Homo sapiens: one gene and its partners. The protein of the gene in region 1 purifies or fractionates together with the protein of each later gene. This does not show direct contact. Each region holds a gene or a part of one and is shown on either strand. Other genes may lie near its edges.

What was found.
Region 2: the proteins of CDS1 (region 1) and NSDHL purify together in Homo sapiens (affinity purification with mass spectrometry; one large-scale study listed by BioGRID and IntAct). This does not show direct contact.
Region 3: the proteins of CDS1 (region 1) and ALDH3A2 purify together in Homo sapiens (affinity purification with mass spectrometry; one large-scale study listed by BioGRID and IntAct). This does not show direct contact.

The regions. Positions count from the first base shown.
Region 1 is NC_000004.12:84,586,010-84,589,665, reverse strand, and holds part of CDS1 (phosphatidate cytidylyltransferase 1), read right to left. Parts: intron 1-3,656. UniProt on the Homo sapiens protein: Catalyzes the conversion of phosphatidic acid (PA) to CDP-diacylglycerol (CDP-DAG), an essential intermediate in the synthesis of phosphatidylglycerol, cardiolipin and phosphatidylinositol.
Region 2 is NC_000023.11:152,848,036-152,851,691, reverse strand, and holds part of NSDHL (sterol-4-alpha-carboxylate 3-dehydrogenase, decarboxylating), read right to left. Parts: intron 1,428-3,656; coding exon 1,269-1,427; intron 1-1,268. UniProt on the Homo sapiens protein: Catalyzes the NAD(P)(+)-dependent oxidative decarboxylation of the C4 methyl groups of 4-alpha-carboxysterols in post-squalene cholesterol biosynthesis. Also plays a role in the regulation of the endocytic trafficking of EGFR.
Region 3 is NC_000017.11:19,672,595-19,675,423, forward strand, and holds part of ALDH3A2 (aldehyde dehydrogenase family 3 member A2), read left to right. Parts: intron 1-556; coding exon of another isoform or gene 557-640; exon of another isoform or gene 641-681; intron 682-2,829.

The DNA of each region.
Region 1 (3,656 bases):
GCCGATATTTTGGAAGCCAGCATTTTAAAAAAATGTTATTAAATGAAATGAATATGCTGTGCATGATAAAAGCTGAATCATGGAAAATTATTTAGGTGGTAATACTGACTGATAATTTATCAACAATTAGGGAGTATCAGCCCAAATGGTAGTCCAGAAATCTAGATCTAAACATTAGTATTTTATTAATGGCCTAGATCTAGATGAAAAACTATAGAAAATGTTCATTACACTTACAGGTGACATCAGCACAACCTGTAGTGAAGTGTACCAAAATGAAGAAGTAATTTACAAAAACACAATAAGGCTTTTACAATAACAAAATAAACTAGACTAAATGCAGTGTTGAATCTCGGATTGTATCCCAGGGCAGTAAATGGATAGTGGAACAACCAGTGAATTTCTGAATAGTATCTACAGTCTAAAATGATATTATAGCTATGTTAATTTCTTAAGTTTTGACCGATGTACCACGGTTATGCAAGATACAAACCTTACGGGAAAGTCGGTGAAAAGTACATAGAAATCTTTGTAATGCTTCTGTAAATAAAACCAACCACCTTTACAAAAACTGTAACAGTGAGAAAATCATAACAGTGAAAAAAAATCTGACCTAACCAACTCTATCTTGCCTTTAACCTTCAAGCTGCCCATGGTCATTCCCAAGTGAGAACCAAGCTAACTTTGGAAGAATTTAGTTTACAGGTTAAATGATAACAGCTCTTCCCTAAACTAAACTGCCTTTATAAAACTAATAAAAGGTCACAAGTTTAGGATTATGAGAGGGGACTGAATTTTGTTGTGATTACATGTAAACAATTACCAGCCACTGGTCTGGAGATCACAAGATTTGCAACTTCTCCAATTACTTCTACACATAATATCACTATTAAAGAAGCTAAGATTGGCCTTTTAAAAGATAGACCACTTTCAGATTTTTATATTTCTGATGACTGGATAACTCCTCCCAAACCAGCAACTCCTGTGGCCCCCCCATCCAGAAATGGACTCAGCATACAAGGACCATTTTCCATACCCCTGCAATTGCCTCCCCAACCAATCAGCAGCACCCATTCTCTAACCCCCTGCACACCAAACTATCTTTTAAAAAGTCTAGCCTCCAAATTTTTAGGGAGGTTAATGTGAGTAATAATAAAACCCTGGCCGCCTGTTTAGCCGGCTCTGTGTGCATTAAACTCTTTTTCTCTATTGCAATTCTCCCGTGTTGATAAACCAGTTCTATCTGGGCAGCAAGAAAGAAGAACCTGTGGGGTGGTTACATAAATCAAAGTTGTTCCAAAATTAAAAGTTTATTTGAAAATAATAATGTATTTATGAAAGAAGCTGCACACATCTCAAATGGAGGAGAGACGTTAACTGATCTCTGGATTGTTTTCTCCTCAACTTCACAAACCAAAATCCCTAAGTAGCAGCCCCATGCACAAACACACAGGGATCTTACCTGAAAGCACACTATTCCACGTGTGCTCCCCTTGACTGGCCACAGCCTCAATGTGCACCCTCTTTTCTCCCACTTCAGGGTCTAGCAAGTGAAGGAAATCAGAATATTTCACCCCAAATTATACTTCTTTGACATATTTTGAGATGGCTGTTCAGAGGGCCTGCAAACAAACAGCCCTGCAAAGCTGTCTTTTGTGAGGTAGATTTGTGTCTGTAGAGAAAATCTGCATTGATGCAACCTGGCCTTCTCTGAAGGTTCTCTCTTGTCTGGATCTAGGAAAGACTAACTGAGAGTCTGACACTTTTAAAGGTCTGAAAGAAATATTCACCATCTATTCTCTCTGAGGGCTCCTCCCTATGAGGTTTCATCTACATGACAGGACCACCTTTGCCTCAAGATGGTATATAAGCTTCTGAGCCTCTTGGGGTTCAGGTAATCACTCTGTCTCCCTCCTCCCACCCCACACGTTAATAAACTTGTATGCCATTTCTCCGATTAATCTACCTGTTGTCAGTTTTTTCTGGCAAGTCTTCAGAGGGCAGAGGGGAAGTTCTCCCTTGGTCTCTACATAAGTCATGTCTTAGCTCTTTCTGTTTCAATACTCATTCCCACTCAACCCATTAGATCTTCACCAGCCCACTTCCCTGCCGACCTGAATCTGTGGTCATCCACTTCAATCTTGGCTTCACTGACTCTCTAATTCCCTACATCCTGGACCTCTGGCACTCCCCAGGCCTAAATCACTCCCATTGCTTTTCTTATTCTCAGCTATTAAATGGGGATATTCCTAACACACAGTCACACAACACTGAACGTGACTGGAACACATCTGAACTGTCATTTTTGGGAAGTGTGATAGGAAATGACCAAAAGGTAACTATTATAAAACTATACAGAATTATTAAACTCAGTGAAGATTCAACTGAATACAAATTTATTGTTTAAAATTTAATTGTATATATACCAAATTATATATAAATATATACAAATACAAATATATATGAATTGAGTTAAACCAAGTTGTTTCTAAGATCCCTTGAAGCTCATTGGTTCTGAGTTCCTACTTTACTAACTGAAGGCATCCAACATTTGATCTTCTCCTTTCTGCTTTTCAAAATGTTCCTGTATCCACTCTTCATTCCGTCTTTCTTTTCTTAAGGAAAAGACATGCATCCCTCTTTTCTTTCCTTGGATATCCCAATAATCCATAGTCTCTACCCCATGTTTGCTTTCTTTTTCCTAGGGCCTACCCATTGTCTTCAACATCTTTACTCATTTGACTTTCATACAAATATATATCTCCCCTCCTCTGAAAAGAAAAATCTTCATTAATCCTCCTGTCTCTCTAGTTGCCATCCTGTATTCCTTTCACTGCCACTTTATAACAATAACTACCAACATTTCACCTCTCAATTTCCTCAACCTAAACTTGCTTCTACTTAGATCTTTTGCTAAACTCCACGTTCTATCTCAGCCCTTATTCCTAAGTACTACTGATGATGTCCTCTAAGCCAGGGGTCCCCAACCCCCAGGCCACAGACCAGTACCGGCCTGTTAGGAACTGGGCCTGTTGGGAACCCGGCTGCAGAGCAGGTGAGTGGTCTGCGAGTGAAGCTTCCTCTGTATTTACAGCCACACCCCATCACTCGCATTACCACCGAGCGCTGCCTCCTGTCAGATCAACAGCAGCATTAGATCCTCACAGGAGCTTGAACCCTGTTGTGAACTGCACATGCGAGGGATCTAGGCTGCATGTTCCTTATGAGAATCTAAGGCCTGATGATCTGTCACTGTCTCCCATCACCCCCAGGTGGGACTGTATAGTTGCAGGATAACAAGCTCAGGGCTCCCATGGATTTTATATTATGGTGAGTTGTATAATTATTTCATTATATATTACAATGTAATAATAATAGAAATAAAGTGCACAATAAATGTAATGTACCTGAATCATCCTGAAACCATCCCCCCAACCCATCCGTGGAAAAAAGTGTCTTCCACAAAACTGATCCCTGGTGCCAAAAAATTTGGGGACCACTGCTCTAAGCAATGCCTCCTCCTTTTGCTCTCAGGACCTTCATTATCTCTTCCTCTGTATCTGCAACCCTGTGCCTAGAATGCTGATTCAAGAAAAAACCCAACACGTCCTTTGCCTAGAACACCCTACCCAAACCCTTGTAAACCTGGTGAGTCC
Region 2 (3,656 bases), on another chromosome or scaffold:
CTTCAAAGCTGGAGAGGCTTAGAGCAGCATGAGGGAGAACGGTTCGGAGGCAGCAATGATGAGCATGAAAGATGTCTACCCCATCTCCAGGCCTGGAGGTGTGGGCAGCACGGGAGAGAAAACAACCGTAACTTTGCAGCGGAAGCAATGGCCTTAATATTTCATCAACAAACCATATAGCGAATGACACCAAAGCCAAGAATAAGGGCCCAGTGACAGGCTGAGGGAAGCCATCCATAATAAGTACAACGGGCACAGGATTGGCATCCCAACTAGATCAACAAGGAAGCAAAGGTAACCCCAAAGACAAAGGGGCAAAGGACACAGACAAACATTTCACACAGGAGGAAGCCTGAAAGCCGATCACCCAGTGGCAGAGTGGCTGGTTACTTGGTCAGGGAGGACATGTGACTCTGAACATCAGTGAAGCACCACTTCATACTTCTCAGAATGGCAACACCAAAAAGTCTAGTTATGCCCAGTGTTGGCAAAGATGTGAAGCAATGGGGCTTGTGCCACATTGTGGATATGGAGGTAAAATTGACATAGCAGCTTTGCTGAGCCATTTGGCACCATCTAATAAAATTCAAGATATTCATACCTGTACAACATGGATGAAGCTTGAAAACATCATGCTAAGTGAAAAAAGTCAGGCACAGAGGTACAAATATTACATGATTCCATTTATATGAAATGTCCAGAAGAGGCCAATCCATAGATGGGAAGTAGATGAGTGGCGGCCAGGGGCTGGGAGGGGAAGAGAGGGGATGGCTACAAGATTTCATTTTGGGGTAATACAAATATTCTGGAGTTAGATCATGGGAGACAGTTGCACAGCTTTGTGGATGTACTGAAAATCACTGAATTGCACACTTTAAAAATGTGAAATTTGTGGTACATGAATTATATCTCAATTAAAAAATCAAGACCCTGTGGCCCAGCACACACTTGTTTTGCAGTTGGAACAATACAGCCCATGGACGGCTTTTGAAGTCAAGTTTCACTGGCATACAGCCACAGCCATTTGTTCATTTAAGTGCTGACCATGGCTGCTTTTGTGCTACCAGGACACAGCTGAGTATCTGTGACAGAGATGATGGTTATTCATTCTAAGCAGTAAGAATGTGGTGTTCTTTCCTATAACTTTGAAAATTTTCACAATGAAACAATTGTTTTTCAAACAAATTGGCTGGCTTCTGAGCAAGGGAAGTATCGTGGTTTCCCTTCGTGGGCTCGTGGGAAATCAGCAAGGCTGCATGGTCCATTACCTGTCGGCTGCAGAGGTCACCCAGAAAGAACCGCACCTGGGGATTATCAAACCCTTGCTGGATATCAAATACATTGACAGCATATCCTCTTGCCAGCAACTGCTCCACCATGTGCTGCCCCAGGAATCCAGAGCCACCGATCACTGTGCATCTCTTGGCCTGTGGAAAGAGAGGAACGGTGGGGAAGACCAGGGTAGTGAGGACTGGAAGCTACAGAGTCCAGACTTACATATCATGAGCCACTGCAATGGCAGATATACTTGTTTGTTTGGAACTCTTCTTGAGCCAAGTTGGAAGCTTTATATCATCCTGGTGTTCCATCACTAGTGCAACCCTAACCTTCTCTCCTGGGATCAGTAAGGAGGGAAGAGAGATAGCGAATGACACTGAGATTGACTTTGGTTGGGTTTGATGACAAGATCCATGCTTTGTATTCAGTGAAAGGAAATCAAACCACCTATGACCAAAACTGGACAATCTAAAAAATACCCCAAAAAACAGTGATACCTTCTTGTTCCCGATAGCTGATCCCTGGGCGCTTCTCTAAGGACAAAACAAAACAAAACAAAACGGCAGCCATTTGGTAGCTGATAGCTTGCACTGAAAACAACAGAAAGAAGAAAGCAGTCTCCATACTTGCAGGACAAAGTCAGTCCCTTTCCCTCTCTGGCCACAACAGGGCTGGGCTGTGTGGCTCTGGGCTCATCGCCCAACCCCTTCTTGCCTCAGCCTAGAAATCTAAGACCGCCTTGATGGGATCTCCTGGTGGGGCTGCAGTGAGGATGGATGAGCCCAGGGCTCTGCTTTCCCTCCTCCGAACTACAAGGAAGTTGAAGAAATGGGGAGAGCCATGGTGTTTATGTCTCAGCCTCCACAACACACACGATTCCTTGGGTAATTCCAACTCTGGTGACTGGGCATAATGAAAGGACACAGTAGCACATGCAGGCACTTAAATACCCTCATTTCAGGATGTTGATGCCAAACTGTGGCTGCTGCACACCAGACAAGCTGGCTATGGGTGTCTGTGAGGAGGACCTGTGATATCCCTCCTCCCTAGGGTCTTTCTAAAACTGTATCTGGGCCTCCTTAAGATGACAACCTCCAATTTCCTTAGCTCATATACAGTAAATCCAACTTGGGTTTGTGGAAATGAAAGATCTTAAAGAAATTATGTTCTAGATTTAAAAAACAAACAAATCTCCCTACTTATTCCTTAAACATCAACACAATTGAGCTATGCAAGAGACTCAAGGGATGCCAGGGCCAGACATCCTCTCTAGATCCACCTCCCTCCCAGTTGGGGTGTCCCATCTGAAACAGCACTCATACTGGATTCCACCAGGCCCAGCTGGAGCTGGCACTGTACTTTACCTTCATCTGTCCATGTGCAATCTACTAACAAAATCAGCCTCACCATTCTTCTACCACCCAAAACTAACTTCCCAACCTGTTCTTTTCTAGGCTTTATTCTGATTATTCCTAAACACATGTAATCATACCAGGTTACATGATTTGCACCTGGACTGAGATGTATATTTCCTCAAGTCATAGCCAAATTAAATACAAAACTCACATCAATCCCTTTTCTAGCAATCCCTTTCTTCTCCCCTCCTCCCAAGTCAGCTGTACAGGCAAACTGTAGCTATTTAGAATAACTCTGAGCTGCCTGTTTCCCAACCTGGATTTCTGCAGTTTACTAAAAGTCTGGCTAAGCCCAAAGACAGTCAGAACTAGATATGTTACTAAAGCATCCTGAAAGATTTCAGACTGCCTTGTTTATTTCATTTGGCATCTCTAGTTACAGGTGTTTCAAAAGGTTGCTAATCTCTTCAAAAAACAACCTTGCTGTTAGTCCAGTGTGATTTCATTTCACGATTTTAATTGTGACTAATCAGTACGCTACTCTTGGACAATGTGACGTGGATTATTTTATGATATTGAAATGTTCTATCAATAATGTTTGGGATGAGTAGGCCAATGGCTGTTCCCTGGAGACCCTTGTAGTGATGGGAATCAAACTGGCCTTTACCCCAGGGAAGTCAAATGTGTGATAATCATACCTATAATGCTGTGTGATTACAGGAGATCACATGAAACTTTTCATGACCACTTTTTACTTCTCACAGCCACAGTGGACAAGAATGAACATGTACTAACAATCAAGTATAAAACTCAAGACTGGAAACAGCAAGACTCCATAATGGGTTACTGAGGTGAGTTATAAGATCAACCTCTTGGAGACAGTGTTAAGAATAGGGGCCAGGCACGGTGGCTCATGCCTGTAATCCCAGCATTTTGGGAGGCCAAGGTGGGTAGATCACCTGAGGTCAGGGGTTCGAGACCAGCCTGGCCAACATGGTGAAATCCCGTCTCTACTAAAAATAC
Region 3 (2,829 bases), on another chromosome or scaffold:
CCGTAATTAAAGTTAAGATGGAATGAGGAAGGCAATTGTGTCTGTGGTGCCCTCAGCCGTTCAACTGAGGATATAACATTGAAAATATTGACCATATCAGTGAAGAATGGGCTTGGAAAAGGCAATGGTAATAGTTGTGTTTATGTTTTGTTTAAAATTTGAAAGGGGGCCGGCGCAGTGGCTCACACCTGTAATCCTAGCACTTCGGGAGGCTGAGGCAGGGGAATCACGAGGTCAGGAGTTCAAGACCAGCCTGACCAATATGGTGAAACCCTGTCTCTACTAAAAATACAAAAATTAGCCAGGCATGGTGGCACGCACCTGTAGTCCCAGCTACTCGGGAGGCTGAGGGAGGAGAATCACTTGAACCCGGGAGGTGGAGGTTGCAGTGAGCCAAGATCATGCCACTGCACTCCAGCCTGGGCAATAGAGCGAGACTCCATCTCAACAACAACAACAACAAAAATTTGAAAGGGGTTTGGCTCATCTTACAGTATCCCAGCCTTAGTGGAATTGGAGATACCAGTTGCATTTGAAATCATTTGGGTTTTCTCAGAAATACCAAGCTGTGCTGAGGAGAAAGGCCCTGTTGATTTTTCTGGTAGTTCACAGACTGCGTTGGTCCAGTAAGCAGAGATGAACACCAGATTTCAAAACCCAGCCCTGTCTGTTAAGAGTGAGGTAGGAACTTTTTGTTTTCTTTCTATATGTAAGGTGGGCCAAGTTGGGGTATGTTTTCAAGGGTTTTTTGGTTTGTTTTTGTTTTTGTTTTTGTTTTTGTTTTTATTTTTGTTTTTTTTTTGCTACAGTTGGAGGCTTAAGGGTTATTGAAAAAAGAATGGGCCGGGCGCAGTGGCTCACGCCTGTAATCCTAGCACTTTGGGAGGCCAAGGCAGGTGGATTGCCTGAGTTCCGGAGTTCGAGAACAGCCTGGCCAACATGGTGAAACCCCATCTCTACTAAAAATACAAACGTTAGCTGGGTGTGGTGGTACGTGACTGTAGTCCCAGCTACTAGGGAGGCTGAGGCAGGAGAATTGCTTTAACCCGGGAGGCAGAGGTTGCAGTGAGCCAAGATTGTGCCACTGCACTCCACCCTGGGTGACAGAGCAAGACTCCGTCTCCAAAAAAAAAGAAAGAAAAAAGAATGTTTAACTTACTTATCTCTAGACATTTTGGACCTGGGCCCAGAGTATCAGGGTGTTAAAACTCCACTTATCCACAATTTTAAAAGGGTGAAGTGACTTGCTAGGAATCTAAGAGAAGTGTGCAGAGGCAATGGCTTAGCTGCGTCCAGGTGAAGCATACATCATTTCTTGGAAAAGGGCAGCTGAGTGTGAGCCTCATTTCTCTTCCCCTTCTACTCAGCTCTCCTGGGGGAGGTGCCAGCTGACTAATTCAGACTTGTCACCATCTAGGCACTGAACTCTTTATGTCATAATTTAAGAATATGTTTTTTAAATCACTAAGTAGTTTTGATTTGTTTTCATTTTTAAAAAAAGGTTTGACTTTGGAATTCATGGCAGCAAATGTCGTGAAATCAAGGTGTAGTATACAATTTAGGGGCTACTTTCTTTGCCTTCCTGAGGCTGGAGGTGTGGTCGGAAGCTTACTTGGGTCTCTGGTCAATATCTGTCTCTTTTGTTCTTTTCCCAAGACCTCGGTTCCTCAGTTTGATAATGCATCTTGGTAGGATAGAATATTTTAGCCTCATGGAAAATACGGAGGCCCAGGCTGAGTCTGCATTCTCCAATCTTACCAAACCCCCAAGAAGCCTCCCTCAGGTGCAGTGCAGTGTGCCAGGCAGGTTCGAGTTCCCAAAGGGTTTGGCAGGCATGTTTCTCTGTGAGGGTCTAGAGAAGCAGCAATATATAAAAGAAGCAGCAATATATAAAACCTTTAGCAGAAACAAAAAAATGTGGTTTGATTCCTGGCTCAATGAACTTGGGCAAGGCCTTTTCTGAGCTCTTTCTTGGGCCTCAGCTTGCTCATCTACAGGGTGAGGGAGTAGGTGTCAGTGATTCCCCAGGCCACTTTCAACCCTTCCGCTCAATTCTCATTACTAATAGTTGTTAATATTTCTTTGGATTCAATCTGGAACTAGGTAGAGATTTGGTTTTCTTTTCCACTTTGCTGCTTTTCTGCTCCTTTCTGAGCTTTTAATCCTCTTTTTATCAAATTACCTTTTATTTAAAATAAATGACTTTGAATCTGTACTGTATATTTACCTGAATAGTCTATTTATTGTAATTACATTTTTCTGAAATGGCTTTTATGTACTTAATAGTTTCCTTATTTTGTTACACTCTTGGATTTTATTTTATTAATTACCTTACTAGAATTAGAAGGGATTTAGAGCAGAAGTATTGTACACAAAGTAAAGTTCCAATAAAGCTTATAAGCTACAGAAGGCATTGTGGGAGATGTGGGTTTTAAAAGGTCGAGAAACATAAGAGGTTAATGTTGATAAATTTCATTAGGCCTTTGACAACTAAATATGACATTTGAACCTTGAGATTGCAGCAGCCCTTCCTCAGTCTTCAATAGGAAGGATTAAATTCAGTACTACTTTTGAATTTTAGAAACAAAATTGTATACCAGTTTTTGAATTCCATGTAGAGACTTCAGCTTCCTACTGAAAATGCTAGGATAATAAGTTAGTACTCTCATCTTCTGTCTCTACTCTGACATTAGCTAGTTGACAGTGGACAGAATATAGCCTTCATTATCACGTTGTCTTACTCTTATTGTTATTGTTGTTTTTTGAGGAAGGGCATAATCCTTTGGCCTAAACCGTGCTTCCTAGGCTTCCTAGGGATATGTAGTCCTT